Linked DNA regions of Homo sapiens. The protein of the gene in region 4 purifies or fractionates together with the protein of the main gene of each other region. This does not show direct contact. Each region holds a gene or a part of one and is shown on either strand. Other genes may lie near its edges.

The links.
Region 1: the proteins of CGB2 (region 4) and CYFIP2 purify together in Homo sapiens (affinity purification with mass spectrometry; 2 studies listed by BioGRID and IntAct, with this or other methods). This does not show direct contact.
Region 2: the proteins of CGB2 (region 4) and CAMK1 purify together in Homo sapiens (affinity purification with mass spectrometry; 2 studies listed by BioGRID and IntAct, with this or other methods). This does not show direct contact.
Region 3: the proteins of CGB2 (region 4) and WASF1 purify together in Homo sapiens (affinity purification with mass spectrometry; 2 studies listed by BioGRID and IntAct, with this or other methods). This does not show direct contact.

Annotation. Positions count from the first base shown.
Region 1 is NC_000005.10:157,317,069-157,325,179, reverse strand, and holds part of CYFIP2 (cytoplasmic FMR1-interacting protein 2), read right to left. Parts: intron 5,419-8,111; coding exon 5,252-5,418; intron 4,526-5,251; coding exon 4,378-4,525; intron 2,239-4,377; coding exon of another isoform or gene 2,164-2,238; intron 1,260-2,163; coding exon 1,106-1,259; intron 1-1,105. UniProt on the Homo sapiens protein: Involved in T-cell adhesion and p53/TP53-dependent induction of apoptosis. Does not bind RNA. As component of the WAVE1 complex, required for BDNF-NTRK2 endocytic trafficking and signaling from early endosomes.
Region 2 is NC_000003.12:9,757,301-9,765,411, forward strand, and holds the end of CAMK1 (calcium/calmodulin-dependent protein kinase type 1), read right to left. Parts: intron 5,914-8,111; coding exon 5,839-5,913; intron 5,753-5,838; coding exon 5,614-5,752; intron 4,458-5,613; coding exon 4,331-4,457; intron 4,237-4,330; coding exon 4,161-4,236; intron 3,469-4,160; coding exon 3,356-3,468; intron 2,451-3,355; coding exon 2,372-2,450; intron 2,276-2,371; coding exon 2,188-2,275; intron 1,987-2,187; coding exon of another isoform or gene 1,887-1,986; intron 547-1,886; coding exon 429-546; coding exon of another isoform or gene 322-428; coding exon 239-321; coding exon of another isoform or gene 217-238; 3' UTR 47-216; downstream 1-46. UniProt on the Homo sapiens protein: Calcium/calmodulin-dependent protein kinase that operates in the calcium-triggered CaMKK-CaMK1 signaling cascade and, upon calcium influx, regulates transcription activators activity, cell cycle, hormone production, cell differentiation, actin filament organization and neurite outgrowth.
Region 3 is NC_000006.12:110,100,706-110,108,816, forward strand, and holds part of WASF1 (actin-binding protein WASF1), read right to left. Parts: intron 7,977-8,111; coding exon 7,823-7,976; intron 6,490-7,822; coding exon 6,372-6,489; intron 4,875-6,371; coding exon 4,702-4,874; intron 2,853-4,701; coding exon 2,673-2,852; intron 1,512-2,672; coding exon 883-1,511; intron 1-882.
Region 4 is NC_000019.10:49,027,807-49,035,612, reverse strand, and holds CGB2 (choriogonadotropin subunit beta variant 2 isoform 1 precursor), read right to left. Parts: upstream 3,724-7,806; 5' UTR 3,518-3,723; coding exon 3,509-3,517; exon of another isoform or gene 3,343-3,508; intron 3,110-3,342; coding exon 2,942-3,109; intron 2,707-2,941; coding exon 2,392-2,706; 3' UTR 2,375-2,391; downstream 1-2,374. Other genes in the region: CGB1 (choriogonadotropin subunit beta variant 1 isoform 1 precursor), read left to right, coding at 1-3.

The DNA.
Region 1 (8,111 bases), on a different chromosome or scaffold from region 4:
CCTACAAAACCTGCAACCTAAGCATGAAAAGTACGCTCGTGGCCGGGCGCAGAGGCTCATGCCTATAATACCAGCACTTTGGGAGGCTGAGGCAGGCAGATCACTTGAGGTCAGGAGTTTGAGCCCAGCCTGGCCAACATGGCGAAACCCCGTCTCTACTAAAAATACCAAAAAATAATAATAATAATAAATTAAAAAAATAAATAATTAGCCGGGCACAGTGGTGCATGTCTGTAATCCCAGCTACTCGGGAGGCTGAAGCAGAAGGATTCTTTGAACCTGGGTGGCAGAGGTTGCGGTGAGCTGAGATCACACGACTGCACTCCAGCCTGAACCTGGGAAGCGGAGGTTGCGGTGAGCTGAGATAGTGCCACTGCACTCCAACCTGGGCAACAGAGCAAGACTCCGTCTCAAAAAAAAAAAAAAAAGTGTGTTCATTATACAAACACAGTGTCAAGACAGGCCCCCGAGTGCCCACTTTCAACTGGATTGTGGCTCCTTGACTCCTCGCGTGTGATAATTGCCAGATCCCATACAGTTTAGAGACCTTGAAGGCCCTTCCCGGGCTACTCTCTAATGGAGAAGTTTGTACTGTTTGTTACAATCACTCTTGTCAATGCCAGCAGACATATGAAGACTCATGTTCCTGAGATACTACTCTTCCTCTGCTCTGGACATACATCTTACTAAAAGGAGAGGAAGTGTGAAGAACACAGGACTGGGATGCAGCTCGAGAGCCTCCCCTGCTGGCAGCAGCAAGTACTAATTAGCGCTTGGTTGCGGCTGAGTAGCAAAAGTCTAGCATCCGTGTGTCTGTATGTACGTATTCTTGTTTTTGATCCCGCTCTACTAAGGACTTTATGACAAATTAGCCACAAGTATCTCCTGGACAAATTTAGCTAAGTCAGAACAGCTGAGTTGAACCTGGCCTTTCCTAGCTCCAAAAGCCCACTGGAAAGTGTATGTGTTTTTTCCTTGGTGGTGATATGTGCCCCTTAGGGTCAACGGTCACGTCCCTTTGCAATGCCTGGCTTGGTGGTCTTAGCGGCTCTGAGAGCCCTCATCCCCTCCTCCCATGCCTTAGCAGGGATGGGATGCAGCTCACCACTGATGTTGAGCAGATGTGTGAAGAAGAAGGACTGTTTGTGAAAGTCCTCTATGGCGAGGACAATGGGTCCATCCAGGCTGCTCCTCAGGGTCTTCTTGGAGCCGCTTTTGTCTGCAATGAGTGATTCAAGCATGGTCCGCACCATGTACAGCTTGAAAAAGAAAGCAAGATGAGAAGGTCAGAAGCTGGCCCTCTACCCCGGGGAAAAAGGTTGCTTCATGTTGTATTTATGTATTTTTTTTTTTCTGCAGATGTCTGCTCTTAAAAAGCACTGTCCTAAGGAAGCACCAGTTTAAGGTTTGAGAAATAAATGTGGAACTGTGAAAACCTTCATGGCCAACCCGGGCCCCGTGGCATCCCTGGGCCAGTGGACCTGGCCACACCAGGTAGCTCCCTGCTCTGCTTGGCCAAGGGCGTGTATATCAGAGGAGAACCTCATTACGTGTCACCCTGGAGTCACTCCCTGCTTTCCCAGAGGGCCACAGATGCCATGGGTGGAGCACTGGACTGGGAGTCAAAAGACCGGGGTTCAAGGCCAGGCACTGCTGCTGATTTGCTGTGTGACCTTAGGCAACAAAGCCCCCACTCTGGGCCTCAGTTGTCTCATGTAACATGAGGGGGTTGGACCAGATGCCTTCTCACACCAGTCCCTTTCAGCACTAACATTCTGAGGAACTGAGAAATGGGATAAGATCAGAACGAACCCCCTCCCACACCTGTTCCTGACCCTCAGCGTTTTGACCCCATGGCTGAGCGATGGCGCCCCCTTGGTGGCATCAGCTGCACTGCACAGCCTGCTGAAGTTCAGGGTGGAAGGCGGGTTAACATTGGTACTTACACAGGAGGCTACTAGACAATTAACTCCCGCTTACAGGGTGCCTTAAGTGCAAAGGATGCAAGTGCGGTGGGGTGGTTCTCTTTGCTAATCTAGATCTCTCCACATCATTTGTCTGTGAATCTTAGGGCTGGAAGGGGCCTTGAGGAGCCAGGCTAGTCCATTCCTGCTGCCTCCTCGAGAAGGGTACCCAAACCAACCCAGCCAGGCGGTGTGATACCAGGGATCGGCAGCCTCTTCGGCCCTGTGTGCCACCAGTGGGGTGAAACAAAGCCCTCGGGGACCACTGGCAGGCCTAAGACATAGATAGGAGAGAAGGAAGAGGGAATGGGAGGGCAGGAGAGACAGGGAAGAGGGAGAGAGAGAAAGAGAGAGAGAGAGAGAAAAGCAAGAGGTATTGTATACGGTGGGAAAGCCGCCGCGACTGCCGGGGGCCACCTCTGAGACACTCCAACCTCCCAGCAACCGCGTTCGTCTTCGCTGCCTCTGGAGCTTCCCTGGGATCTCCCCCATCACATGCCTGGCACTGATGCGGGTAGAGCAGCCACAGAAACGTGTGACCCACCATCCCTGCCACAGGGCTTCCTTTGTGGGAAAGCAGCCACAGTGGCCGTCAGTGCCTCAGACAGTCCCCCATCTGCAGCCCTGTTGGAGGGCCTGTCTCACCATCCCTAGGAGCCGAGAAGCACTCTTCTCATGACGGCCTCTCAAGTCCTCAAAGGAAGAATCCAAGTCTAATCTGTTGTGGGTGCTGTCCAGTTGATATCCAACTCTAATTCTCTGAAAACTGGTTTCACCCATAAGAAGGTGAACTTTTTTCCCACGTACTTTTACTTAACAGAGCATTTAATTCACCAAAACAGTCTCTATCCCAACTATGCAAGATGCCCATGTCTACTGTGTCCTGAAGACCGTACCAGAGCCCTGGGTGGGTGTCAGGAGACCTGGGTTCTTGTCCCACCTCCACCTGGGACTCACCTTGTGACTTGGACAAGTCACTTCCCCTCTCTAGACCTCAGTTTCCCCATCCGCAAGAGAGGGGGAGGGCCTAGGTTTCTCTAATAGCGCTCCCAGCTCTGGTTGTCTACGAGTCTATTCAACATGTCTGTGCCACCTAGCATGACCTGGTAGAGGTTGGGGGTGAGGCGGGATTTACTGCTGGTGACCCACCCCTCTCACATTATCTACACAAATACTCCTTCCTCTCCTCTCCTTTTCTCTCTGCCTGTTAAGTCCCCTCCTCCTCCTTTCCAGTGTCTTTTGTGCCTTGTCTGTCTCTTGCTCACTCATGTCTTAAAATTTACAGAAACACTTGAAAGCCCTGCTCAGTGTCTCCCGGACCTCAACCCTTGATATTACACAGAACTGTTTGCAGACGCTTCCTTGGGGCGTTCTACAACCAGCCGGTGAGATTGGTGCAAACTAGCAGAGGGCTGTGAAGCCAAGGGGAGTTAAGATGACCCTGCCGAGAACCCACCTCTCCCCTGCCCCAGCCCCCAGCACAGACACAGACGCACACACAGGGAGAAGGGTCGGGGGTGGGCCTCAGATGGTCCATCTTGGGTGACTGAGAACAGAGAGAGGCTTAAAGGTCATGGGAAGTGAGGCCTGTGAGACCCTTAAACTTGCAATGAGAACCATCTGCTTTTTCCAGTACATCAAAAATATTACCAGAAACTACCTATCCTTAAGTAGGTAGCAGGGATTTAACGAAGATGCCCAGATTATTGACTTTTTTTTCTGTAACGTTATGACTGCTCTGGATAAGCCACGGGCGACCTCTTGTGCAGAAGCTCTGGCTGGCAACTCTGAGTGTTTCCAAATACTAGACTTCCTCTAAGGGGACAAGGGCTTTCAATACTTGCACTTTTGGAAGGATGTGGAACTAAGGAATATTTTGTTAGTAACACAATCTCATCCAAAGTTTTCATTTTACAGAGAAGATAATCAGAGCTCAGAAAGCTCAAGGTGCTTGCCCAAGATCACACAGCAAGTCAGAGGCAGAACTTTTAGGGGAAAGGGCCAGGACTTATTAAAGAGGGGCAGCATAGATGCATGCAGATAGATTCCACTTTAACCTCCTCCTCCACTTTGGAATCTATACTTCATAGGACTAGAAGATAGCCAGGCAAGGTGGATGTGGTGGTATTATCCCCATTAGCCAGTTTAAACAACTGAGGCACAGAGAGATCTGTAAAGTGCCCGAGGTCACACAGGTATCTAGGACTAGAATCCAGGTCTCCTGAATCTTAAGCCAGTGGTCCTCCTTCCTATATCAAAACAAGATGGCAGAATAAGACCGGAGCAGCCACTCAACCCTGCCCCTCCTGACCGACGGCTCCCAGTCCCACTGCCCATGGCCAGCCATGATGATCTACCATAGCCCGGCTGGCCTCTGAGTCAACGCAGCTGGCCTGTGCCTGGAGCCGCTTACCTGTGTGCTGGATGGCCCCACAGCACGCCGGGGCACCTTGATATCAAATCCACCTTTGGGGTCCTTCTCCCCTCTCAAGCATGGGTCATTAGGGGGCTCTCGCCCTCCCTCCCAGTCACAGATGGTCTTTCGAATTGCCTGTAGGACGCTGGGGAAGGAAGAACTAAGACTTAGACCAGGTTTCACCATGGGAAAACGTCACTACAAGCTTGTGTTTCTAGGGCCCGTGGTGTCCCAGGAACACCCACATTTGAATTCTTGGGGTGCTTGTAAAGCATGCTCATTTCTGCCCCAATTCCAAAACTCTGGTTTAACAGATTTAAGGTACAGTCCAGGAATCTGTGTTTAAACAAGTGTCCTACATGGTTCTGATGTCCAAGGGATGTCTGAGAACTCAGCTCTGAGCCCATCGAGTGAGACAGAACTTGTGTGAGGCAAGAGGTCTGTATTTCCTTTCTGGTTATAGGGGAGTCTCACCGGTCTTATGAAATCTGTGTGTGCTTAGTTTTCATAATAGCTTAGATGTGCTGCATACTTACTCCATGCTGCATGTGCTTAGGTCTATATATGGACCATCTCATTTCATCATCCCAACAGGCAGCAGGTAGCATTATAATCCCCATTTTACAAATGAGGAAAACTGAGGTTTGGAGAAGGTCAGCAACCTGACCAAGTTCACACAGCTAGATAGCAGTGGATATGGACTTCTAGAGATGAAGGCTTAATTCATCCCAAATGCCCAATCTCCTAAAGAGCCCTCTGGAGCTTGCTGGAAGGACCCATGTGTGTTCAGTGGCTGAGCCAGGACATCCTCTCTGATGGGTACCTGGCATGCTTATGTCTGATATGCTCCTGAAGGCATCTGAAAACCCACCTGATGAGGACATTCTTCTTCTTCCGTACCGCCTGCCGCAGGGGCTCACGCAGCGTCACCTGGGCGAAGTCCTGCAATGCCGCGTAGATGGTGTTCCTGATGGCCTGGTTGAAGACGCTCTCCATCCTGCCCATGAGCACCTGCAGGCCTTTGATCATGGCGATCACCTGGGCAGGAAGAGGCCAAGGGTCATGTTCACCATGTCCAGCACACCAGCTGTCTACTACCCATCACCGCCCTGCCAGGGGAGGCGGGGAGTGAGATGTCCAGAGGCATGAGGCCAGTGCTACTCAAAGTGCCAGCGCATGGCTAGGTAAGAGATGTGTGCCAGAATGTACGTATATCAGCACTTGGCTTCATTCATTGAGAAAGTCTTGCTACAAAACACAAATGTCAGCTCAACTAACAGCATTCTTCGCAATGCAACTGATTTTCATCCTCGCATGAGCTCCCAATTTTGTTGTTCACTGCTGACAAATAGCAGCTGGCCCATGGGCCACAATTTGAGCATTTTGAGAAGTGCCTTGGCTTTTGAAGGCCTCTCCATAGACCAGGCACTCACAGACAACATCAAATAGAACTTTTTTAACATAAAATTTTCTAAAGAATTTTTACAACCTTTGTTTTTGAAACCGTTTGGCCAGTTGCTGCTTGAGTTTATAAAATCAAAACTTCTCCTGCAGAAGTCATGGGGGAGAATGCCTCTACTCCCCTATTTCCCTTCTCCTTACCCTAACTCACTTATCTGTTTGGAGAGATGGGGATTCAGGCACGTGTGATGAGAGGAGCCTGGCCTGACCTTGGCTCGCTCTTTTGGGACCTGCCTGCCTGCAAGTATGTGGCCTCCCTTCTAGGTTTCTGGCTGCTTCTTGCAGTAACCATCCCCTGCCCATCCCGAGGAAGGGAGGCGTGTATCTATGCAGCTGCTTTGCCTATTACCTAGTGGCAAGTTTAATGAGATGTAGGAGGCATAGGAACACTGGTGTGGCCTTGGGTGAAAACCACATTCTCTAGTCTAGCTTTACCAGCAGTAAGTCTGAGCCTTTGACTCCATTGGCCTCTAATATTAATTTCTCAATTGATTCAGAATTCAGAGGGAAAGGCATGTGGCAGATCGTCCACCTCACAACTGCCACACAGATCACACCCATAATGGCATGTTCCACCTTCTACACCAGACTGGAAATACACAGGACAGGGCCCAGCTATGCTGTGCACGCCCAACTGCCAGTGTCTGGGTCCATGGTGGGCAGACACATTTTCTGTTGAAAAGGAACAAATAAATGAATGAATGAGCTCAGACCCTAAGGCTGTTTTTTTCTCTAAAACTTAAAGGAAGAAAAAGAACATTTTTAGATAGAACTGGTATGAAAACAACTCAGGAGGTGATGGTTTTCATTGGCACCAACAGTACAACAATTTTGTTGGTGATGAGCTTTAGTGCAGAGAAATAATGGGAGAGAAGCATTAGAGGACTGTTAGATCATAACAGAATCTGGGCCCCTGGCTACAGATATAACTAGGAGACATTAGGAAAAAGGAAGGAGTAAATAATGAAGATGTCTCAGAATGGCTCCAAATACAGAGGAGTGGGCAGGCCTGTTGGATCTAAAGGAAAAATCTTTACAACTCTAGACAAGGCAAAGATTTCTTAGCTGAAACCCCCAAATCACTAACCACCAAATAACTGACAAATTGGACTTCATCAAAATTAAAAACAGCTGCTCTTCAAAAGGCACCCTTAAAAAATGAAAAGGCAAAGTCACTGATGAGAAAAAATATTTGCGACATATATTTGACTGAAGACTTGTGATCTAAAATATGGAATGAATTCTCACAATTCCATAATAGGAAGACAGAAACCCGATTTTTTAAAAATGGGCAAAAGATCTCAATACTTCACAGAGGAAGATATATGAATGGGATACAGGACAGGACAGAGGTAAAGGGAATTCCCAAGATAATAAATAATGAGGAGAATCTTGGATCAGTGGCGGGGCTGGTCTAGAGACAAACCCATGCAGATTGGAAAGAAGAGAGCTTGTGGAGGAATGCCTCCAAGAAAAAAAGAATAATACCAAAACTCATCAAATGATGACTGTGATGGACTATTTTGTAAGGAGTTTTACATTTTGTTGGTAGGTTTGGGGTTGCCTTTTTGATAGACTCATAGAAAACAAAATAAAAAATACAGTATTGCTAATTCTATGAAGAACAAAAAGTTGTGCAAGAAAATAAATGGATTCACATTAGAGCGTGTGGCTCAGTGATGGACAACAGTTACTTGGTTATAATAATAATAAGGTAACCATTGATTTTTACCAAAAAGTGTAAAATTACCACGATGGGAAGATGGGGGAAGGAAACCAGGTGTGTTGCAGGGATGGGAGGTAGGAAGGAGAGAGCTATATCCTCATTTCCCAAAGTAGAAAATCAATAGAAAATGTCATAAACTGAAAAACCAAGAAATAGTCTCATAAGCCTGTTAGAACTAGGGAGATAAATACCACAAGGAATCGCTTAACAAGTTGAATGGTGTTTCCTATTTGGGGATTCAGAATGGAATAACATGGTACAGGCAGGTTACTACTTTTGCTTTGTTTTATTATTAAAGGCCACATTGAACTACTTTTCTTTTTAATTTTTTTAAACATGTTTTATTAATGAGATAAAAATGATAAAACCTCCCAATGTATAGCAAAGTAATGACTAGATGGAAATAGAGTGACATGTTCTTGGTGGTTGTGCTTGGATGACGATATAAGGTTGTGGGAAGGTGAAGGTAGAAGTGGGTTGCGGGAGCATCTTCTGAATCACTTACAGTGCATACGCATCCCTTTTATTAAGGAAATAAGTGCAT
Region 2 (8,111 bases), on a different chromosome or scaffold from region 4:
CACAACAAGATGGGGTGGGGGATATTGAGGGAGACAGCGCTAAGGATGGTTTTATCTTCCCTTTATTACAAGAAGGAACAATAAAATAGAAACATTTGTATGGAAAATGCAGTGAGGAGTGGTAGGGAAGCAGGTGAGGAGGGGACAGGGCAGAGAAACTCCCGGTTCAGGGAGGGAAGGGGAGCAGGCTGCCCCCAAGCCCTCCCACGCAGAGGATCATGACCCGAGGTCCAGGGCCCTAGAGCTGGTGGGGCAGTGTGGGGGACAGTTCTGTGCCCGGCTCCACGCAGCAGTCTCGACAGCAACAGCCAGCTGCCGGCCCTGCATGGGAAGACAGAACAGAGGTGGCCGCAGGGGCAGGCCCTCCACTCCAGCCCGGGTGCACCTTTGTGGACCACCCATGCCCTTCTGCAGAGCCCGCTCCTCACCCCCAGCCACTGGTGTCAGCAGCTCCCCATGGCTCGCCGTCTGCCCCTGCCCCTCCTGGCTGGTGCCCAGCTGCAGTTTCCTCATGTGCCGCACCACAGCCGTGGCATTGAAGGCTTGCTGGCATTGAAGGCATTGAAGGGAGAGGGGAGAAAGGACTTTTGAGAGAGTCAAGTCATGGGGCAGGGGCGCAGTGGGATTCTTGCAATTGTTCTGTTATTTTCATTCAGGAGTTATTTTATTAATTCCCCTAAAGCCCCCCAAAAACCTCTACAAGGCTTTATTATATATTTACACACACACACGCACATATGTTAGATGTATGTGTATCTATATATATAAATAGAAACATAACTATAATTCATATTAATATGTAATAGCAAACACTATAGCACTGTATGTCAGGCACTGTTCTAAGCACTTTACGTAGTAATTCATTTAATCTTCATGAAAGTCTTTGAGGTAGGTACTATTATCATTTTCAAAGGAGGAAACTGAGGCACAGAAAGCTGAAGTAACTTGCTCAGGTGTGTCTCTATTCAATATCTCCACCTAGGTGTCCCACACACCCCTCAAATTCACCATGTCTAAAACTAAAACCATCCCCCCAAAACATGTTTCTGTCCCTGTGATAACCATCTCAGTCATGGTACCACCACCATCCATTCTGTTCCCAGCCACAGTCTTGGGCCAGCCCTTGACATCTCTTTCCCCCAACATCCATTGCATCGTCATGTCTTGTCAGTTTCACCTCCTAAATGACTCCTGGATCAACCACTGTTCTCTGCCCCCTGTTGCTGCTACTGTGGTTCCAAACCCTTACCATCTCCTGCCTGTATCTCTGCCACAGCCTCCTAATGCGTCACCCAGTCTTTACTCCATGCCATTCTCTGCATCCTGAGAGCTCTTTCTTTTTTTTTTGAGGTGGAGTCTCACTTTGTTGCCCAGGCTGGAGTGCAGTGGCGCGATCTCAGCTCACTGCAACCCCCATCTCCGAGGTTCAAGTAATTCTCCTGCCTCAGCTTCCCAAGTAGCTGGGATTACAGGCACGCACCACCATGTGTGGCTAATTCTTTTATTTTTAGTAGAGACAGGGTTTTGCCATGTTGGCCAGGATGGTCTTGAACTCCTGACCTCAGGTGATCCAACCACCTCGGCCTCCCAAAGTGCTGGGATTACAGGCGTGAGCCACCATGCCTGGCCCTGAGAGCCCTTTCTATGCAGCAAATACTTGCCTAAGATTCTTCTGGGGCTCCTCAGTGCCCTCAGGATCAAGTTGGTGCTCCTCTGTGGCATATGAGGCCCTAAGAGGCCTGGCCCCTTACCTGCTTCTCTAAATTGGGCTCCTGCCTCTCAGTCCCCTCAGCCCCTCCAGTCTGGCCAGGCTTAGCACTTGCACTTCCCGGAATGGCTATAGACATTATTCCGCTATGCCTCACTAATTCCTACTTAACTGACAGCTCTGTCAGGTCATCACCACTTTTATGACCTTTCTCGGACCCCATAGGCTGGATCAGATGCCTCCTGAAGAATTACAGACTTCTTCCTCTAGACTTGGAGGTGAGGGACCCTCTCTGGAATAGAGAAGGTGTTGGGAGTGTTTGTTGAATGAAAGAGTGAATGAATGAAGTCCTTCAGTAAGGATCCCTAAGCAGTTACTGTGTGCCCAGTGTGATGCCAGGTGCTGTGCAAGCTGAGCCTGGGTAGGGATGGGGAGGAGTCCTGGGGAGGCTGGGACCAGAACTAGGGATATGGACTCACCTTCCACTTGCTCTTGGCAAAGTTCTTCTTGATCTGCTCACTCACCGACTGGTGGATATTCTTATCTAGAGCTGTATCTCCTGCAATCCTAGGATGGGGTTATGTGGTGGGTTGCCTATGAGGGCAGAAGCAGACCTGAGGGCCCCAAATCCCGCCCCAGCTCACAGGTTGTGTGAATTCTCACCATGGGTGCTGCAAGGCCTGCTCACAGGTGAATCTTTTCTCTGGGTCCTTCTCCATCAAGTGCCGGATGAAATCTTTGGCTAAACCCCCAAGACAAAAGCAAAGATAATGACAGCATGGTACTGCCTGTGTACTCCCCAAGAGCATACCCACTCCCTCAGGTCTGGCCTGGCATCAAGACAAAGAGGCCAAATCAGTCCATGCCCCACCCCACCCAACCTATGCTCTTCTTCAGGCCCTCCCACCCCGTGCCTTCCAGCTCTTTCCTTTCTCTCTTAAGAAAAACATATGGCCGGGCACAGTGGCTCATGTCTGTAATCCCAGCACTTTGGGAGGCCAATGCAGGTGGATCACGAGGTCAGGAGTTCAAGACCAGCCTGGCCAAGATGGTGAAACCTTGTTTCTACTAAAAATACAAAAAAAATTAGCCGGGCATGGTGGTGGGCGCCTGTAATCCCAGCTACTTGGGAGGCTGAGGCAGAGAATTGCTCGAACCCGGGAGACAGAGGTTGCAGTGAGCCGAGATTGTGCCACTGCACTCCAGCCTGGGCAACAGAGCGAGACTGCGTCTCAAAAAAGAAAGAAAAAAAAAAAAAAGTTGTTCTTGACTAATCTCAGTGCATTCACACTGATGATAAACGATAGTAGCTTCACAGGTTTGCTTCTTAATAGGGGGCACAAAAGGAGGATGAAAATGTTTATGGTGGTGTTTTAGACATTAGGGTGTCAATAGGGGAGAGGTATTTTCAAATAGACTATGTTTGAAGATTGAACAAATGAATGCCTAGTTTCTCACTCTGGGAGCCAAGCAGAAGGAAGTACCCAAGCAGAAGGAAGAAGGGGTAGGGTGTCTGGTCTCGAAGACAGCTCTTTGTGTGGTGCTGGAAAATCCGACAGAAGGAAGGCAGGAGGGAGACCGCCCCCAAAGCAGGTGAGGGAGGAACCAGAGGCAGGGCCCAGGGGAAAAAAGCAAAGCCCCAAATACCAGAGTCAGAGATGTCGTCCCAGTAAGGAGAGTCAAACTCGTACTCGGCCTTCAAAATCTGTTCAAAGAGTTTGGCATCATTCTCGTCATAGAAGGGAGGGTAACCGCAGAGCCTGGGCAGGGAGAAACTCATCCTCATTTCCACTTTCGGGTGCCGTTGGCTCCGGGGTGGAGCACTGGGGCAGTCTCAGGGGTCAGGCAGGAGCCATGGAAGGAGTTCCCCCTTTATAAACTCTACCAGCCCTGCCTGCTCACTCCTGTTCTAGCTACATTATCCTTTCTGTTCCTTGTATGTGCCGCCATCTTGCCCTCCTCAGGGCCTTTGCACTTGCCATTGCTTCTGCCTATGCCACTCTTTCCCCACACCTCCAATGTCTGGCTCCCTCACCACTCGGTCATCACCTCCACAGCGAGCCCTTCCCTGACCTCCCTACTGAAATGGCATCACCCCGTCTCCCTATTCCTGCTTGGTTTTTCTCCACAGTATTTATTTTTATCACCTGACGTCAGTTTGTAGATTTATTTACTTGTTGATTGTCTGTCTTCCCTACTAGAAAGAAAGTCAGCTCCCTGAGGGCAGGCACTTTGTCTGGTTTGTGCTGTGCTAAATTTACCCCAGTGCTTGCTTGGCACAGTGCTTGAAACATAGTATCTATTGAATGAAGTAATACTGGTAATTGATTGGTGGAAGGAAGGGAGGGAGGGAAGGAAGGGAGGGCAGAGGGAGAGCAGAGGAAGGAAGAGAGGAAAGTAGGCGAGAGGACAACTCTGGAGCCACAGCCTACCATGGCCAAGCCCCACTTACAAGATGTAGGCGATGACACCTATGGACCAGCAATCCACAGCCTTGCTGTAGGGCTTCTGGGCCAGGACTTCAGGGGCTGTGGAGGGAAGAGGACGTGGTGGTGACAAATCTCTGCCCTTCAACTCCTGGTTCCCCCCACCATCACAGCCCCAGCCCAGGGCCCTCCGCACCCACGTATCCCGGAGTTCCACAGGCGGTGGAGAGCACACTGCCCGGGTCCTCCATCTTGGAGAGGCCAAAGTCGGAGATCATGATTTTGGAGTCTTCATCCAGGCTGTAGTACAGCAGATTCTCTGGCTTGAAGGGCAGGAGGGAAGAGAAGGGGCAATCAGAGATGGTTAGAGGCTGGTAGAACCTTCTGCCGCTCCAAGCACCTTCTGAGAAATAATGGATCCCCAAAAGCCACTGTGGCTTCATGGCTGTCATAAGAAAATCAAGGAAGCTCTCAAGAAGGCCAAAAATTCCAGGAAGGACAAGGCTCAAGAGGGTGTGGGGGGGAACTGTCTCTAAACCTCAGGTGTGCACTGTAAAGCCCTAAAGGAATGTTTGAATGCCTATTTTATGCCAGACCCTGGATTAGTGCTTGATTTAATGCCATCCTCACTGCTTCCCTGCTAGGCCAGTCTGTATAATCTCACCTAACAGATGAGGAAACTGATGCCTTTGGAGGCAAAGTGACTCACCCAAGAACCCACAGTTAGGCAGTAGCAGAGCCAGAATTCAAAACCAGGCATGTCACACCCCAAGTGCCCTTCTCCTAGAACGGATTGAGATGTACTGCTAAATGTGAGCCCCGTCGCTATTTCCGAGGAGTAGGATTTCGGGGATTTCTGGCTTTTTTCTTTATGTTTTGCTGTCCCATCCAAGTTTTCTACAGAAGGGGAATAGGATTTTTTGTTTTTATTTTATTTTTTTTGACATGGAGTCTCGCTCTGTCGTCCAGGCTCGCTCTGTCGCCCAGGCTGGCGTGCAATGGCACAATCTCAGCTTGCTGCAACCTCTGCCTCCCGGGTCCAAGTGATTCGCCTGCCTCAGCCTCCCTAGTAGCTGGGATTACAGGCATCTGCCACCACGCCGGGCTAATTTTTGTATTTTTGGTAGAGACAGGGTTTTGCCAAGCTGGTCTCGAACTGACCTCAGGTGATCCACCCGTCTCTGCCTCCTAAAGTGCTGGGATTACAGGCGTGAGCCATCCTGTCTGGCCAGATTTTTTTTTTTTTAATCAGAAAAAGACAAAATGTTGTTTGGATAAAATGCCACACAATTCACTCGTGTTCCTTTGAGTATCTGGACTAGAATGGGAGGAGGCAGTTTAAAGGTTACAAGATCCACTTTGTAGATGGAAATCCAAGGCTCAGTGAGGGGGTGAAAGTTGCCCAAGGTCAGACAGTTTGGGGTTTGCAAAGGCCCCACCCCTGGGTACCCTAGCTCACCACACCCCCTTGAGCCCCACCTTGAGATCCCGGTGTACAATGCCCAGGTCATGCAGGTATTTCACAGCATCCAGCACCTGGAAGATGAGGCGGCTGGCGTCCCGCTCCGTGTAGAAGCCTTTTTCCACAATACGGTCAAAGAGCTCCCCACCCGACACCCTGCAGCAGGGGATAGGGCAGTCTGGCAAAGAGGGTTGGGACAGCTGGGAGAGGTGTGGGGGCAGGGCAGAGGTTGGGCCACTCACAGCTGCATGATGAGGTAGAGGTGGCCCCCACTCTCATAGATGTCATCCAGGGCTACAATGTTGGGGTGCTTGATCCTGAAAGGAGAAATGAGGTGGTTTAGCCAGGCATGGCGGTGTGCACCTGTAGTCCAAGCTACTTGGGAACTTGGGAGGCTGAGGCAGGAGGATCACTTGGCCCCAGCAGTTCAAAGCTGCAGTCTGTTATGATTGCACCTGTGACTAGCCACTGCACTCCAGCCTGGGCAACAGAGTAAGACCCTGTCTCAAAAAAAAAAAAAAAAAAACAGCGGTTTAGAGCTCAGGACAGCTCAGCCACCCCCAACCCCCGACCACTGCCTACATACCTGGGTAGGACAAACCAAGGATCTCGTCCCCAAAGGGAAAAGCTAGCTTACCATGGTTTATTACCATTTTTTGGAAGGTGAGAGAGCAGAGGGATAAACACTGGGCTCTGGCATACACAGACCTGGGTCCAAATCCTGCCCGTCACATGCTATTTGGGTGCAGATCTTTTCACCAGTGAGCCACTGCACCCAGCCTGATACATACCTCTTAAGAGTTTTCTGGCTAGGCACAGAGACTCACACCTGTAATCCCAGCACTTTGGGAGGCCAAGGCAGGCGGATCACTTGAGGTCAGGAGTTCGAGACCAGCCTGGCCAACATGGCGAAAACCCATCTCTACTAAAAATACAAAAATTAGCCAGGCATGGTGGCACATGCCTGTAATCCCAGCTATCTGTGAGGCTGAGGCAGGAGAATTGCTTAAACCTGGGAAACGGAGGTTGCAGTGAGTCGAGATCATGCCATTACACTCCAGCCTGGGCAACAAGAGCAAAACTCCATCTCAAAAAAAATATATATATATAGTTTTCTGTGTTTACATGTTTGTCAGCCTCCCCCACCAGACATAAGCTCCCCGAATCCAGAGGCTTTGTCTTGCTTGCCACTGTTCCTCCAGCACCTGGTACAGGGTAGGTGCTAGATTTAATGTAACCTCTCTGAACCTCAGTTTCTTCATCTATAAAATGAAGCCAATGGTAGTACTTCCCTCAAAGAGTTGGAGTGAGGATCATGTGAGATAATGCAGGTAAGGTGCTTGGCACAGTGCCTGGCACACGGTAAATACTCATAAGTGAAACAATAATGGTAATTGATTTTTTTTTTCTTTTTTTGAGACGGAGTTTTACTCTTGTTGCTCAGGCTGGAGTGTTGCCCAGGCTGGAGTGCAATGGCATGATCTTGGCTCATCACAATTTCTGCCTCCTGGGTTCAAGTGATTCTTCTTTCTCAGCCTCTCAAGTAGCTGGGATTACAGGCATGCGCCACCATGTCCAGCTAATTTTGTATTTTTAGTAGAGACGGAGTTTCTCCATGTTGGTCAGGCTGGTTTGGAACTCCCCACCTCAGGTGATCTGCCCACTTCAGCCTCTCAAAGTGCTGGGATTACAGGCGTGAGCCACTGCGCCTGGCGTTTTTGTTTTTTTTTTGTTTTTTTTTTTTTTTTTGAGATGGAGTTTTGCTCTTGTTGCCTAGGCTGGAGTGTAATGCACGGTGTGATCTCGGCTCACCGCAACCTCCACCTCTCGGGTTTAAGCAATTCTCCTGCCTCAGCCTCCCAAGTAGCTGGGATTACAGGCATGTGCCACCACGCCTGGCTAATTTTGTATTTTTAGTAGAGACAGGGTTTCTCCGTGTTGGTCAGGCGATAATTGATCTTGATGATGAGGAAGGCTCAGCTCTGCCACAAACTTGCCATGTGACTGTATACAAATCCCTGTCCTCTCTGGGTCTTATTAGAAATGCTCTGCCAGGAGTTGGGTGTGGTGGCTCATGCCTAGCACTTTGGGAGGCCGAGGCGGGTGGATCACCTGAGGTCAGGAGTTCGAGACCAGCCTGGCCAACATGGCGAAACCCCATCTCTACTAAAAATACAAAAATTAGCCGGGCGTGGTGGCAGGTGCCTGTAATCCCAGCTACTAGGGAGGCTGAAGCAAGAGAATTGCTTGAACCCAAGAGGCAGAGGTTGCAGTGAGCCAAGATTGCGTCACTGCACTCCAGCCGGGGCAACAGAGTGAGACTCCATCTCAAAAAAAAAAAAAAAATTATCTGCCCAGGGTGGTTGGAAGCTCAGGGGAGAGATTGGAAGTGATTCTCTGTAAGTTTTCCAGTGAGGACAGGAGGTTTCATATCAGCATGAGCAATTCATAGACCAGTTGGTTGTGGATTTAGTCTGGGGGTCAGCAGACAGTCATTTTTAAACTTGCTGAGTGG
Region 3 (8,111 bases), on a different chromosome or scaffold from region 4:
TTTAAATCAAAATACTAGATACTAGATATTATTAATATTTCTGGAATAAAATCAAATACACATGAGAAATACTTATAGGAAAATAAAAAGATCAGAAAAGAATGTGAAGAAATCATACTGAGAGAGGCATTAAATCTTTATGTTATCTGTGTTATTAGTTGGTAAAACTTACCAGATATCCCAGTAGGTATCTACAGTTTATTTATCCATCATGGTCTACTATACCTCCCTGCTCACCACCCCCTAAAAAATTAATGAGGTGGTACATTTCTTCTATCACCTCAATGGTCAAATAAATTAAACATTGTTGAATATATTTTCTGTGGCTTCATTATCCATTGTATTTGAGGGAAAGGCACTATTATTCATTCTATATGCTCAGTGCCTGGCCTATAGTCATTGCTTAGGAAATAATGACAATAAATGAATGAATATGAGAAGTCTTTCCTTTGTTACTAAGGGAGGAAACTCACTCCTCTAAAGGCATCTGGTAGAGCAAGTGTCATGGATACCCAAAATGAACAGCCTTAACATTGAAGAAAATACCATTTTTAAAGGAGTTAATATACACATTAAGCATAATATAAAGGGTTTTAATTAAATGTTCTATAACATTTAAGTCTGATATATTAAATTTCTCATTCACTCAATAAACATTTTAAGGATACCTACAAAGCATGAAAATAAAATGGTCAAATGTGATATATTTTCTGGAAAATAATTTTAAATATAAGTTGGATATAGCTTTACTTTCTAAAGGCCATTTGTACACAAACATGATCACCTAAAATTTTATAGATAAGGAACACATTTTTGTCTTAAATATTTAGAAAGTTTCCAATGCTACTATAGCAATGCTTTTCATGGAGCTGAGAAAATTACCTTTTCGTATTGCTTCCAGTAGCACACTCCTGGCATCACTGATTACAGGTAGGGTTGATGGATGGCGCTTTGGCTCAGAAGCAGGTATAACTTGTGATGGAGGAGATGGAGGCATTAATGGAACATGGGGACCTGGGGCAGTAGATGGAGTTGGATGTAGCCCAGAGGGAGGATGAGCAAGAGCTGTAACTGTGACAGGTGATGATGGTCGAATGCCAGGTGGAGGCAGAGGAGGCGGTGGTGGGGGTGGAGGCAGCCCCTGAACTTCACCTTGTGGGAGTGGATGAACTGGTACAGTCTCACATACTGGGGCAGCTCTAGCTACTGGTGGAGAGGGCTGTACTAGAGGAGGTGCAATTGGAGGAGGAGCTGGGTGAAGAACTCCAGGGGCAATCTGAAGAGGAGCTGGAGGTGGTGGTACTGCTGGAGCTTGCAAAGCAGTGGCTGGAGGTGGAGGTGGGGGAGGTACTGGAGGGGGAGGAGTTGAAGTCATTGAAGCTCTTAATGAGGAAGTTGACAAGGCAGATGGAAGAGGTGGTGGAGGAGGTGGGGGAGTGGGGCTCACAAACACAGGTGTTCTGCCTGTAGCTGGTGACTGAGGGCGATTTTCTATCAAACCTGTAGCAGAACTGAAATGACAAAGAGATTCTAGCAAGTTATTAAAAGAGAAAAGCCTAAAGAGAAAATCTAACCACACAAACTATAAATGACTATCAGTAATTATATCAAAATGGATCCAATAACATGCTCCTATAGAAATTTAACATCTTCAACAGTATTTAGAAAAAAAAAAAGAACTAAAAGCACATCAATAAAAAAATTAATGAGTGGTGCTTTGGTTTGTAATAGTCTAAATAGTCTCATTCTCTCATGCAACTTTGGCATCCACTCAGATATTTTATGCTTACTTTAATAAATAAAATGCTCAATTCTATACTGACAGGAGTCTCTATAATGACTCAACATTGATCATAATGCAATTTTGTGGCAATACATGTGGCCAATACAATGCTATATTTATACTGAAACTATGAAGTCTCATCATATGCTATTTCAGTTAAATCAATGACAGCTAATTACAAACCACAAAAAGAAATTTACAGCTCTCTCTTTTCCTGAGGATGGAACACCAAATGAGTCAGTGATAGAAAATTGGATTTTTAACTGAAAATTGTAAAGCTGATCTCTATATCTCTATTAGAAAATTTCCCTAATATTTCTCTATTAGAAATTTATCATTTGGATAATAACTGACAAGATTAAACTTCAAAATAGCTTTACTGAAAGATTATTATAAGCAACTGCCAATCCTCTCTGAAATTCTTTAAGTATTTTCCTTAATACCAAATTAGTATTAATAATCACATCTTTGGTTCCCATTTCTTAGACTGTTACCCACATTCCAAAAAATCCTTAATTTTTCTTAATACACTGCACATGATATGCTTGATAACAACACTATAATAAAATGAAACAGGCTTTAATCTTTAAATTCTTATTAGCTAAATTTTCCTAGGAGAGTGTGTCAGCTCTAACCAGAAGATTACAAATAATGTCCCACAGACCAAATCTGACCTGCTCCCTGTTTTTATAAATAGAGTTTATTTCAACACAGACACATTCATTTGTTTATGTATATTCTATGGTGGCTTTCATGCAACAATGGCAGAATTGAGTACTTGTGACAAAAACTGTAAGGCCCGAAAGCCAAAAATACTTACTATATCGTCCTTGAAAGAAAAAGCTTACTGACTCCTAAGATAAAACATCATATGCTTGTTCCAACATACCTGATACAGGTGGGTATCGGTTTTGCATCTCCTGCTCCATGCATTGGTGGAGGTGGAGGTGGTTCATGTGGTCTGACTAATACCCTTTCCTCAGCTCTAGTCAGAAGCTCACTCATCTGACTAAATGGCAAGGCAGAAAGTGAGTAAGATCCATCCATATGATCCACGTATGTCTGAGGTCTAAAAGAAATATATAGTATCAGTGAATTATTCTTGAATTATTGGGAGGAAAGGGTTCTACATGAGATATTAAATATTTAAAGTTTATCCTTTCAATGCCAATATTTTAACTATTTTTAAGAAACTTTCAGAAATGTATTATATTAATCCTGCTTTTAAAACAAAGAATGCTGCTCACAATATAACCCTTACTTGTTGATTTAGAGATCTACTATGATGACCATCGGTTATTTTATTATTTTATAACAGAATACTAATTCAACTCACAGGATGAAAAGCATTACGTACGTAATTTAATAAACAAGAAAATAATTAACTTTTAGCAAATTGTGTGGAAAGCTATCTGCCTCTATTTAGTTCTTTACAAGAAGATGCCAATGACAGAAAGGTAGAATAGGAAAATGAGTTTTCTACTACTAGTATATCTCGGTGTGCTCTTAAACTTAAATGACTTCTAAAAGTCTTGCACCAGAGAGAAAGGCCTCCCAGATACTAGCAGCACAGAGGTGGCTAGCTATATTGTTTCTGTCCTTCTGCTGTTTTCAAAGGTGCAAGGGTACTCAGAAAATAGCTGAGTAACATAGCAACATGTGACTTAGATGTAAGCAAAATTTTAGATAACTCGAACATGTTAAGATTTATAAATATTTGCTAGTACATTCTTGGGAAAAAGTTGGATTTAACAGATGTGCACACAGCAAGTCAGAAATTATTGTATTTAGTGAGTCAGATAAGTACCTTAATTACTCAACTGTAGTAGAAATAAATGTCTAAAGTTTATTAATTTTTTAATGTCAATTCTTTCAGTAATACAGATAAATAGTATCTCTCAGATGTATATTTCTCCTAAAATAGGTCAAGATGTTGCACACTTATGGCCCAATCATTTATATGTATATTACTTAAAAGAAAACCTTAAGCTCTTTTCCATTAAAAAATCATATGACTAGGCTGGGCACAGTGGCTCACACATGCAATCCCAGCACTTTGGGAGGCTGAGACAGGCAGATCACTTGAGGTCATGAGTTCAAGATCAGCCCGGCCAACATGGTGAGACCCCATCTCTACTAAAAATACAAAAATTAGCTGGGCGTGGTGGCGTGTGCCTGTAATCCCAGCTACTTGGGAGGCTGAGGTGGGAGAATCGCTTGAACCCAGGAGGCAGAGGTTGCAGTGAGCTGAGAGCACACCACTGCACTCCACCCTGGGCGATAGAGCAAGATTCTGTCTCAAAACAAACAAACAAACGTATGACTATACCCAAATAAGTGTCTTCGTAGACAGATGCCAGTTTAATGTGTTTGCTGGTAGTATGTTATTTAGTTAGGGCCCCTGGCCACTAAGAAAGGAAAAAATCTTTTCTACAAAAGGGATCAATACTTTTGTTTGAAAGTCCTAATATATCTGAGGTGGGCAATGTGGCAAAGAAAGGAAGTCAGGGGAAAGTAAAAGGAACAAAACAGAACCCCTTCTTCACTCCTATTTTATATGCAATAAATCAACAGTATTTCAAAAAAACCCCAGACCCTAAACTTTTATTACAAAATTCTAGCAGACTGTGCCTGAAATATCGAGAGGCTATTGAGACGTCACACTAAAGCTAAAACCCTAAAGATCAGCCACTCCAACCACTTCTTTCTAAGATGACAAAACTAAGGTCCAGGTATGAAAATGACCTGCTCAAGGCCTGACTTTAGTAGGCTCACAGTGGTCAGGATTTTGAAATAATCTCTATATTTATAACAGGGTCTGCCTGTTCAACAGTTTAGGACTCAAGACTTAGAAGTACAGATACTACAAATAAAGCCAATGTTTTATCATTTAAAAAAAAAAACAAAAGTAAAGAAACCTTGTTTCAAAATGAGAGGCTGGGCCATTAGCAACTTCAATATGCTTATGTAAGAGATTAGCATCATCTTCAGCCAGCTCTGGACCTTGGGCCAGCTTCTGCCATTCTCGCCGCCTGTCATGAGGTGCTCTTGGCACTTTTTCTGGTTCATGAGGACGATCTAGATTTTTCTGCTATAACAGATGTATTGAAACAAAGTCAAATGCTTAAGCGCTAATTTTTAAAAAGGAGGTTATAACAATCAAATTAAACTCTAACATCAACACTGAAAAAGACAATGTCATCATAATATAGTAAAAGTAACACAGAAATGGTTTACTTGTACATTCAGTTAAATCTTAGCCAGTCTGCTGTAATCCCAGTTTCCTGCCATGTTTTGTTTAACCCCTAATTTGAACTGATGCACCAGACACAAAACAGTATGCCTAAAGAATACAATTTGAGGTCAGAAAGTCTTTCAGATGAAAAAAGACTCATGAACCCTTGCTCCACAGGCATTAGTTTGAAATTTCTACGATGAATGGCATTGTCTGCCCCTAATCAAAACGTAACAATTTACTAAGGTTATGTTATCTGGGAAGTAACTGATTAGCTAGCCAACACATTAGAAAAAAATCCAATTATCTAATTAACCGATAATAACTATATCACTCAACAGAAAACATTGTCTTTAAACAATAAAACAAAAAGTGATTCAAAACTGGGGGAGAAAGTACAGAAAGGGCTAGAGTAAGTGTAACAAATTCAAACGCCCAAAGCGGCCAAGCGGATAACATACATGAATGAAGCCAGTCGGGTGTAAGATGGGGCATGAGGTGAGCTAGACAGACATGTCCATCTCAGGCACTCTAGTTCCAAAATTTAAAAACCTCTGTGTTTGGCAAACAAAACACTCCCTACAGGCATAATCTGGCTTGCCAGTCACCAATTTGCAAATGTTAGCTAGAACACTGGGTTACCATCTAGCAAAGAAGACAATACAATGGCATTATACAGGGATTAGGGAAAGCAGAGATAGCTACAGGAGAACCAGAGAGATGATAAAGACAGAATTTGCCTCCTTCATAATTCAACCTAAATCTAACTTTGCTTCATCCTTCTGTGTTTTCAGTTATCATTAACATGAAATATAAAGCAGATACAAGTGAATTTTATTAGAAAGTGGAAAATGACAATAACAGAAATTTCATGTGAATATAATAACCTCTCCAAAACATTTAGGAGAGAAATGTTTAGGATGTGCTCTGTAGCAACAAAATACTAGCTTAATCTACGTTACCAATATCTGTACAAGATTCCATTGCTCCTTACCAAAATGTTCCTCTCTTCCTTGGTACACCTAACTCCTATCTGTTCTTCAAGATTCATTATAAGCTTTGTGGGAAGGGTTTACCCTGCCTGCTAGCTAAAGCAGATGCTATTTTGTGTTATCTAAACCCTTTATGCATACCTCTGCTATGGCACTTATTATGCCCTACTCTAATAATCTAATTGCTCATCTGCTCCCCATCAGACTGTGTTCTTTCTGTGGAGTTATAAAGACTTCAGTATTTAACTATATGGACCCAATAAAATAAAACTGTCAAAATACAAGATTAATGAAGTTCAATATATGCAACAAAACACAAATATACAAAAATTAACCTCAATTTTTTAATCTCTTGTAATACCTTCTGCTTCCTCTTTTCCTTCCTCTTATCCTCTGTATCTTGCAACATTTTTTCTTTCCATAGATCAAAGAAATACGAAGGATTGGTATAAAACTTCAGACCTTCTTTACCATCATCTCTGAAATATAAAATATCAATTAAAACACACATTAGTAAGACTTAGGCAATCAGAATAGAAATAATTTCACTAAAATGTTTATCCTCTTACATTAATAAAATACAGCATGTTAAAATAGTGCCAAAATAAAACTGAATATTGCACCAATAGAAAATTTCTCACAAATATGAGGAAACAAAGAAAAGTGGTAAAGCAGATGCTTTTCCAAGTTAGTACTAACAATTTAAAGTATAGCTGGGCAATTTTCATCCCTAATTTCTGCTGAATCCCAAATTTTCTAAAAAGTCCTTTGGGCAATTCCAATAATTACAAATAGCTCTGCCAAAGATAAAAGCCTGAAAAGACAGTAACATCATCTAGAAGACAGAAATTTTGCAGTTTCTGCCAATACTATGATTTATTTATTATCTTACTAAATCCAAAAGATATCATGTAATAGTCATTCTAACAGTCACATTTATATCTAATTATCTGCACACTGACTTACAATTTCAAATAACTCTCTGAATACTATTTTATTCAGGTTGTGTTGTACATTACCCATTTAACAAACCATGTGAAAGAACTTCAAAGAAAGGCTAAATAATTCCAGATTTTATTCTAAGTGGTAAAAAGCATTTTATAAAGGTACTACCTATTCATTATGTAAGAAGTTAATGTATACAAATCAAATCAAGAGTAGACGAAACAGGCCGGGCGCAGTGGCTCACGCCTGTAATCCCAGCACTTTGAGAGGCCAAGGCGGGTGGATCACGAGGTCAGATCGAGACCATCCTGGCTAATACAGTGAAACCCCATCTCTACTAAAAATATAAAAATTTAGCCGGGCTTGGTGGCAGGCGCCTGTAGTCCCAGCTACTCGGTAGGCTGAGGCAGGAAAATGACATGAACCTGGGAGGCAGAGCTTGCAGTAAGCCTAGGTGACAAAGTGAGACTCCGCCTCAAAAAAAAAAAAAAAAAAAAAAAAGAGTAGACAAAACAAGCAAAAATTATGTTTATTTTGTTAGTAGGACAGAATTTTGAGCTTTTTCCATTTGATTAAAAATTAAATTAAAAGGACAATAATAACTCCTTATCTCTTTACATTAATAAGTTTACCAGTGGCTTTTCTAAACTTGTAAAAACAACTCTTTTAAATAGGTCTTGTCTTTTGTATGCCACAATCTTAAGAATTCATCCAATGAATAAAAGCAAAGGTTTTCCAAAGGTGGTGGACAGAGAGGGCTCTCTGTGTTGGCTAGAACCCCAATGAAATAAAGAATGTTTGGGGATTTAGCATTTCAATCTGAAGTCTGAGATAAATAATAGGGCTACTATTTATTAACCTACCTACCTATAAGGAGTGAGTATATTGAGAGGTGGAGGCTGTTCACAAACATCGTACGTCTCCTGTAATGGAATAGGCAAAGTCTTGCGATCGAAAAGCTGCTGGTCTTGAATTGTAGAACTTCGGAAAGCTTTCCTCATTGTTATATCTTGCAAAGACACTAAAACAAAAATCAAGAATTCATTTTATTTTATTTTACTAAGATGATTTAACATAAGGGCAAATTCACATACTTTATTTGTCTAAAAGTCAGCATGGCTCAAGAGGTTGTGACCTTAGTGGCTTATGAATCAGA
Region 4 (7,806 bases):
TAGGACACCCCGATCCTCCCACAATAAAGGCTTCTCAATCCGCACTCTGGAGGTGTCTTTCTGTGGGCTCAGGGCAATCACACACACAGGGTGGGTCCAGCTTCCAAACTATTTTATACAGAGTCACAGTACAGAACTCTGGTAGAAAACAGGGTGGACGGCTGGGCGTGGTGGCTCACGCCTGTAATTGTCGGAGGCTGCGGTGGGTGGATCAGCTGAGGTGAGGGGTTCCAGACCAACATGACCAACATGGAGAAACCCCATCTCTACTAAAATTACAAAATATCGTCGGGCGTGGTGGTGCATGCCTATACTCCCAGGTACTTGGGAGGCTTAGGCAGGAGAATCTCTTGATCCTAGGAGGCGGAGGTTGCAGTGAGCCAAGATCCCGCCATTGCACTTCAGCCTGGGCAACAAAAACAAAGCTCCATCTCAAAAATTAGTAATAATAATAATAATAATAATAATAATAATATAATTAAAAACGTTCGTCCAGGCGCAGTGGCTCATGCCTGCAATCCCAGCACTTTGGGAGGCCGAGGCAGGTGCATCACCTGAGTTCAGGACTTCGAGACCAGCCTGGCCAACATGGTGAAACCCTGTCTCTACTAAAAAAAAAAAAAAAAATTAGCTGGGTGTGGTGGTGCGCGCCTGTAGTTCCAGCTACTCAGGAAGCTGAGGCAGGAGAATCGCTTGAACCCGGGAAGCATAGGTGCAGTGAGCCGAGATCACGCCACTGCACTCCAGCCTGGGTGACAGGGCGAGACTCCGTCTCAAAAAAAAATAAAATAAATAAAATAAAAATAAAAATAGAAAATAGTCCACTACTATTACTCAATAGCAACAGATGGTAAAATACAGGCTCAGAGAAATTAATGATTTGTGCCTGGTCACACAGCCAACAAATGGCAGAGATGGGACTTCAACTCTGGGCAACTGCACTCTGCCATCCTTCCTGTAGAACTCTGAGGAACTGAGAGTCTTGCATCTTGGAGGATGTTCCAATCAATTTTTTTTTTTTTTTTGAGACGGAGTCTCGCTCTGTTGTTGAGACTGGACTGCAGTGGCGCGATCTCGGCTCACTGCAAGATCCGCCTCCCGGGTTCCTGCCATTCTCCTGCCTCGGCCTCCCAAGTAGCTGGGACTACAGGCGCCCACCAGGACGCCTGGCTAATTTGTTGTATTTTTTAGTAGAGACGGAGTTTCCCCATGTTAGCCAGGATAGTCTTGATCTCCTGACTTTGTGATCCGCCCGTCTCGGCTTCCCAAAGTGCTGGGATTACAGGCATGAACCACTGCGCCAGGCCCAATTTTGTTTGTTTGTTTTGTTGTTTTGGGAAAGGGTGGCATGGAGAAGACTGGGAAACAACCAGTGGTCACCAGAGCTGTAGCACCTCCTTCACCTCTGAGCTCTGGGGCTGGGAACCCCAGGCTTCGGAGGCCACTGTGGAGGACGCAGGTGGCCCCCTCTTTCCTGACATCTCAGGACAGGGAGGGGCAACCGGCTAGGGGAAGAAAAGAACAGGAAGGTTATACAGCCAGGTGGGGAAGGGGCCAAATCCCTGAACAACCCCTTCCCAGAGTTCCTCTTCAAGCGCAGGGTACCCAAGAGTCAAGGCCCCGCCCCCTTTCCAGAGGCCCCTTTTCTACTTAGGTGACGGCTCCTGGCTGGGATGGGAGGTAGATGGACCGGGGGTGGGAGGGGGGGGAGGAGGGGAAGGGAGAGGCAGTGGATGAAGGAGAATGGAAGAGATGACATCCCCCTTGGCCCATTCATCCCATTCAGGTCCCCAAGCCCCCACCTGGACTGCCAGTGCCAACCTCAGAGGGTGGAAGAGGGAGCTCGGCTTAGAATGCTGAGGCCCTGCCCCCTGGGCCACACCAATCGTGTGGCCTTCCTTCTCCCCACGGAAGGCCAGACCATGGACACCTCCTGAGCTGGATGTCATCCCCCATCTCCACCCTCTTTTCTTTTTCTTTCTTTCTTTCTTTTTTTTTTTTTTTTGAGATGGAGTCTCGCTCTGTCGTGCAGGCTGGAGTGCAGTGGCGCGATCTCTGCTCACTGCAACCTCCCGCTCCCAGGTTCACTGCATTCTCCTGCAAGCGCCCGCCACCAAGCCCGGATAACTTTTCGTATTTTTAGTAGAGACGGGGTTTCACCGTGTTAGCCAGGATGGTCTCGATCTCCTGACCTCATGATCCGCCTGCCTCGGCCTCCCAAAGTGGTGGGATTACAGGCGTGAGCCACCACGCCCAGCCGTCCACCCTGTTTTCTACCAGAGTTCTGTACTGTGACTCTGTATAAAATGGTTTGGAAGCTGGACCCACCCTGTGTGTGTGGTTGCCCTGAGCCCACAGAAAGACACCGCCAGAGTGCGGATTGAGAAGCCTTTATTGTGGGAGGATCGGGGTGTCTGAGGGCCCCGGGAGTCGGGATGGGCTTGGAAGGCTGGGGGGAGGGGCCTTTGAGGAAGAGGAGGCCTGGAAGCGGGGGTCATCACAGGTCAAGGGGTGGTCCTTGGGACCCCCGCAGTCAGTGGTGCTGCGGCGGCAGAGTGCACATTGACAGCTGAGAGCCACGGCGTAGGAGACCACGGGGTTCACGCCGCGCGGGCAGCCAGGGAGCCGGATGGACTCGAAGCGCACATCGCGGTAGTTGCACACCACCTGAGGCAGGGCCGGCAGGACCCCCTGCAGCACGCGGGTCTGGAAGCCGTGTGAGTGGGAGAATGAGCATGTGCCTGGGGCCAGCGCCTCAGCTGAGCTCCCCAGCTGCCCCCACAGGTCTCAGACTCAGGGGTCCAGGAAGCCCTCTGTTCCTGCCCTCCCACACCCCATTCCGCAGCCCCTGACCAGAGAGGCAGACCACCCTTCCTCCCCCGCTGCCTCTGTGGGTCTGGCCCTGAGGTGGCAGCACCTGCCCCGGCCCCGGGCAGCTCACCATGGTGGGGCAGTAGCCGGCACAGATGGTGGTGTTGACGGTGATGCACACGGGGCAGCCCTCCTTCTCCACAGCCAGGGTGGCATTGATGGGGCGGCACCGTGGCCGAAGCGGCTCCTTGGATGCCCATGTCCCGCCCATGCTCAGCAGCAGCAACAGCAGCAGCCCCTGGGACAAGGACACTGCTTCACCCGGGTCTGAGACCGCAGCCCCGAGTCCTGGCCTTCCCATCCCGCGTGGTACACCACCCACAAAGACCCAGAGACCCTTCGTGGCATCTCCTATTCAGGACCCACCACCCGGACACCTGCCTTTCAGAGCCCACCCCACAGCCCAGAGGATCTCAGATACCCCAACATTTTAGATCCCCACCCTCAGGAACTGCCCCACCTGAAGCTTACTGGGGGTCACGCTCCTCCAGAAAGAGGCCTCCTTCCACAGCTCACACTGGTCTGCCCCTTCTCATGCCAGTGATGGCCTGGAAGCAGGTGGAAGGTGCCCAGGGGCCCTGCAGTCTTTCCTGGAACATCTCCATCTTTGGTGCCTGGAAATGTCGATCTACCCTACCTTTGACATGTCTCTCTCTTAGCGGGATATCTTCCGCAAGCACTGGGGATGTGGACATGGAAAGTAAATTGAGTCTCCGTGGGGGAGTGAGACAGGGAGTGAGGGGTGTTGGACGCGGCACGGGAACCCGGCCGGAGTCAGCGGACCCAATTGGCTGCTCTCTCTCAGATACAGTTCCCCTTCCTCCCTCCAGGGGGCGCCACGGAACGCAGGGCCCTCACTGGCCCTGGGGACTGGGTGACGTCAGGGGTGAGCCTCTCCTGATTGGCTCCATCACCCTGCGTAAGGTCAAAAGGAAGAAAGGAGATCCCCGACACCCCGAGCTATTGTGGCTCCGACCGGTTGCGCGTGCCCTCGGGCCCTCAGGGAGGGGAGGGTTCGAGGGTACGAGTTCGAGGCCAACCGGGTCCACATTGGTTGAGAAAAAAATTTTTTTATCGTTCCCTATATAATAACAAAACATAAAGGGAGGACGCCTTGATAGGAAGAAATGACATCTTCCTAAGTGTTTTTAAATTACTTCAATGTATCTTTTTTTTTTTTGGGAGACCGAGGCTTGCTCGGTCCTCGGGGGACCTCCCTGCCTGTCAGCCATGGCGGTCGTCACCTGTGGTAAACAGAATGGCGGGAGCAAGTGGGATGTCCCACTACTCGGGCTGAGGCAGGAGAATCACAGGAACCTAGGAGGTGGAACCTCCTCGCCCAGGAGGGGCGCGGCTTCGGACTTAGTTTCTGCCCAATGAGAGAGGGCCTCCCCGTGACTGTGCTGCCAGGTTAGCCACTTGACCCTGGTGCCGCCAACGAGGGATTCAGCCCGAGCCCCACCTCTCCCTTAGGGACCTCTGCCCACTCTACCCTCAAGCCAGGATGCCCGGAGCGGTCCCCGGAAATGCGTGTGCTTCAGGTGATTTAACTGATTATTGAATAGGCCCGCAGGAGGTGTGTCCTGCCCCCGAGGCCTCAGCCTCAGAGGACATTATCTGGACTTAGTCCCTTCCCCGCGATGCCATCAAGCTGGACAATTTTAAGGTCTGTTTCTTTCCCAGTGTAGGGTATAGGTTGGCACAGGGAAGAGGGCTAGAAACCTGACTTGAGCTCCCCGCCCAGGGCTGAACTCTCCAGCATCCTGATCACTTCTCATTGAACCTTGCTTATACTCCCCGTGTGATCGGTAGCTCTTTATCTCAAAACAAAATATTCTAAGCCGACCCCTGCCCACTCTCACCAAGTAAGATTTCTCATTTGAACCCCAGCTCCCAGATACTTAAAGGCCTTCTGTAGACCATGTCCTCAAGGTCCCCTGGCCATCTGCTTGCATGTTCCAGTTTCCCTCCTCCCCCATGCACATCGTGAAATGTGCCCTCCCACTCCCCAGGATGAGCAAGGTGGTGTCCTCTGTGACTGAGCAGTCAGCAACTTAACACCAAAGGTCACCAATGATCAAATCCATGAGAGTTGATCCGAGGAGTTATGTATTAGGGCTACGAAAGAGTAAACACTCAGTAAATAGTGGCTATTATTATTATCATCATCATCATGATTACCCTCAAGTTCCCCTGGGAGAGCTCCTATTCAACCTTCAAAACCCCACGTTGTTGCACCCATCCTACAGAGATTGAGCTCAAATTCAGAGAGTTGTGATTTTGCGATGATTTGATGAGTTCCCCAACTGGGGTCCGTCCGTAGAGCAGCTGGGCCAACCCTGAGGTCTCTCAGCATCCAGCTCTGTTCTTTTTCTGCCTGACCAGTTCCTGGGTATAAGTCTCAGGCCCGGCCAGTCCGGCTGAGGAGTGTGCAGACACAGGCTGTGCCAGTTTGAATCCATCGCCAGTCCACACGGCCCTGGGCATCAGCGGTCAATGCCCGCACATAGGACTGCTTGGCCTTGCACTCAGACACCCAGTGCCCCCCGGTCCACACCCCAGCGGCAGCCCCTCCACCTACCCCTGGGCCACCTTCTTCAGAGTTATCGGCCTTGAAGCAGGTGACAAAGAAGTGTTGGTGGAGGGAACTGCTGCCAGCTGCAGGCACCTCACCCAACACCTCCACCTCGAGCACAACCAAGTCCACAGCGGTCCGGGGGTCTGTCACCCAGACACTGACTGCATCGCACACGGCCAGCTCACCCTGATGACTCGCCGGTGAAGTATCGCTCACCCCTCGCTGGCTGCGGTTGGCCCGGGTGCCTGCTGACTCCCAAAAGGCCCCAGTCTCCAGCAGGAAGACCAGAGGGGGCCCGGCAGCGGCACCCCTAGACAGGACCACTTGGGGGAAAATAAGGTCCCACTCTGGAGGAGGAAAAGGGGACAATGTCAAGGGTGGGGGTTAGGACTCCATTGACACACTGGGGAGGAAGCAAATGAGGGGGATGCAGAGGGAGCCTGGGGGAGCGGGAGCATCTCTCAGAGGACATGGAAACAGGGAAAAGGAGGCTGGGATTAGAGAAGAGGATAAACACTTCAGTGAGGTCAGAAGTTGGGAACCCCAGGGGAGGCCTGCCTGCCAGGATTATGGGGAAGCCCTTGCTCTAGAAGTTTGGGGGACTCCATGTATGGGACTTGCATCACACCCAACTTGTAGATTAATAATAAATATTCAACAACTACAGGTCAGGCACTATGGCTCACACCTGTGGTCCCAGCACTTTGGGAGGCTGAGGCGGGTGTTTGACTTGAGGTCAGGAGTTCAAAAGCAGCCTGGCCAACACTGTGAAACAACATCTCTACTGTTAATACCAAAATTAGCTGGGCGTGGTGCTGCGCTCCTGTAATCCCACCACTTTGGGAGGCCCAGGCGGGCGGATCATGTGGTCAGGGGATCGAGACCTTCCTGGCTAACACGGTGAAACCCCGTCTCTACTAAAAATACAAAAACTTATCTGGGCTTGGTCGCGGGCCCCTGTAGTCCAAGCTACTTGGAAGGCTGAGGCAGGAGAATGGAGTGAACCTAGGAGGGGGAGCTTGCAGTGAGCAGAGATCGCGCCACTGCACTCCAGCCTCCACGACAGAGCGAGACTCCATCTCAAAAAAAAAAAAAAAAAGAAAGAAAGAAAGAAAAAGAAAACAGGGTGGAGATGCAGGATGACCTCCAGCTCAGGAGGTGTCCATGGTCTGGCCTTCTGTGGGGAGAAGGAAGGCCACGTGATCGGTGTGGCCCAGGTGGCAGGGCCTCAGCCTTCTAAGCCGAGCTCCCTCTTCCTCCCTCTGATGTTGGCACTGGCAGTGCAGGTGGGGCGGAGAGGGGCGCGGCTTGGGGACCTGAATGGGATGAATGGGCCGAGGGGGATGTCATCTCTTCCATCCTCCTTCATCCACTGCCTCTCCCTTCCCCTCCTCCCCCCTCCCCTCCGTCCATCTGCCTCCCATCCCAGCTAGGACCCATCACCTGGGTAGAAAAGGGGCCTCTGGAAAGGGGGCGGGGCCTTGACTCTTGGGTACCCTGCACTTGAAGAGGAACTCTGGGAAGGGGTTGTTCAGGGATTTGGCCCCTTCCCCACCTGGCTGTATAACCTTCCTGTGCTTTTCTTCTGCTAGCCGGTTGCCCCTCCCTCTCCTGAGATGTCAGGAAAGAGGGGGCCACCTGCGTCCTCCACAGGGGCCCCGAAGCCTGGGGTTCCCAGCCCCAGAGCTCGGAGGTGGAGGAGGTGCTACAGCTCTGGTGACCACTGGTTGTTTCCCAGTCTTCTCCACGCCAACCTTTCCCAGAACCACAGGCTTCCAGAATGTTGTAGGGAAACTGCAAAATCCGCGCCTCCACCAGCCTCTCCCAGCGCCAGGTCAATTTCACACACAGGGAAACTGAAGCCTGCCTCAGAGGGGCAGCGTTTTACCTCCTTAGTGGCAGTTTTGAGGTGAATCGGGGTCTCCCTAGGATTCCAGGTTGTGCACTTTCTCTAAATTGTGGAATGTGGCCAGGCGTGGTGGCTTGAGTCTGTAGTCCCAGCTACTCAGGAGCCACAGCAGGAGGATGGCTTGAGCCCAGGAGTTCAAGTGCAGTGGGGAAACATAGGGAGACCTCGTCTTAAAGCAATTTGTTTGGGGCCAGGCGTGGTTTCTCAGGCCTATAATCCCAGCACTCTGGGAGGCCAGGGCAGGAGTATCACTGGAGGTTGGGAGTTTGAGACCAGTCTGGCCAATGTTGTGAAACTGCATCTCTACTAAAAATACAAAAATTAGCAGGGCACGGTGGCAGGCGCTTGTAATTCCAGTTACTCAGAAGGCTGAGGCAGGAGAGTCACTTGAACCCAGGAGGCAGGCGCTACAGTGAGCCAGGATTGTGCCACTGTACTCCAGCCTGGC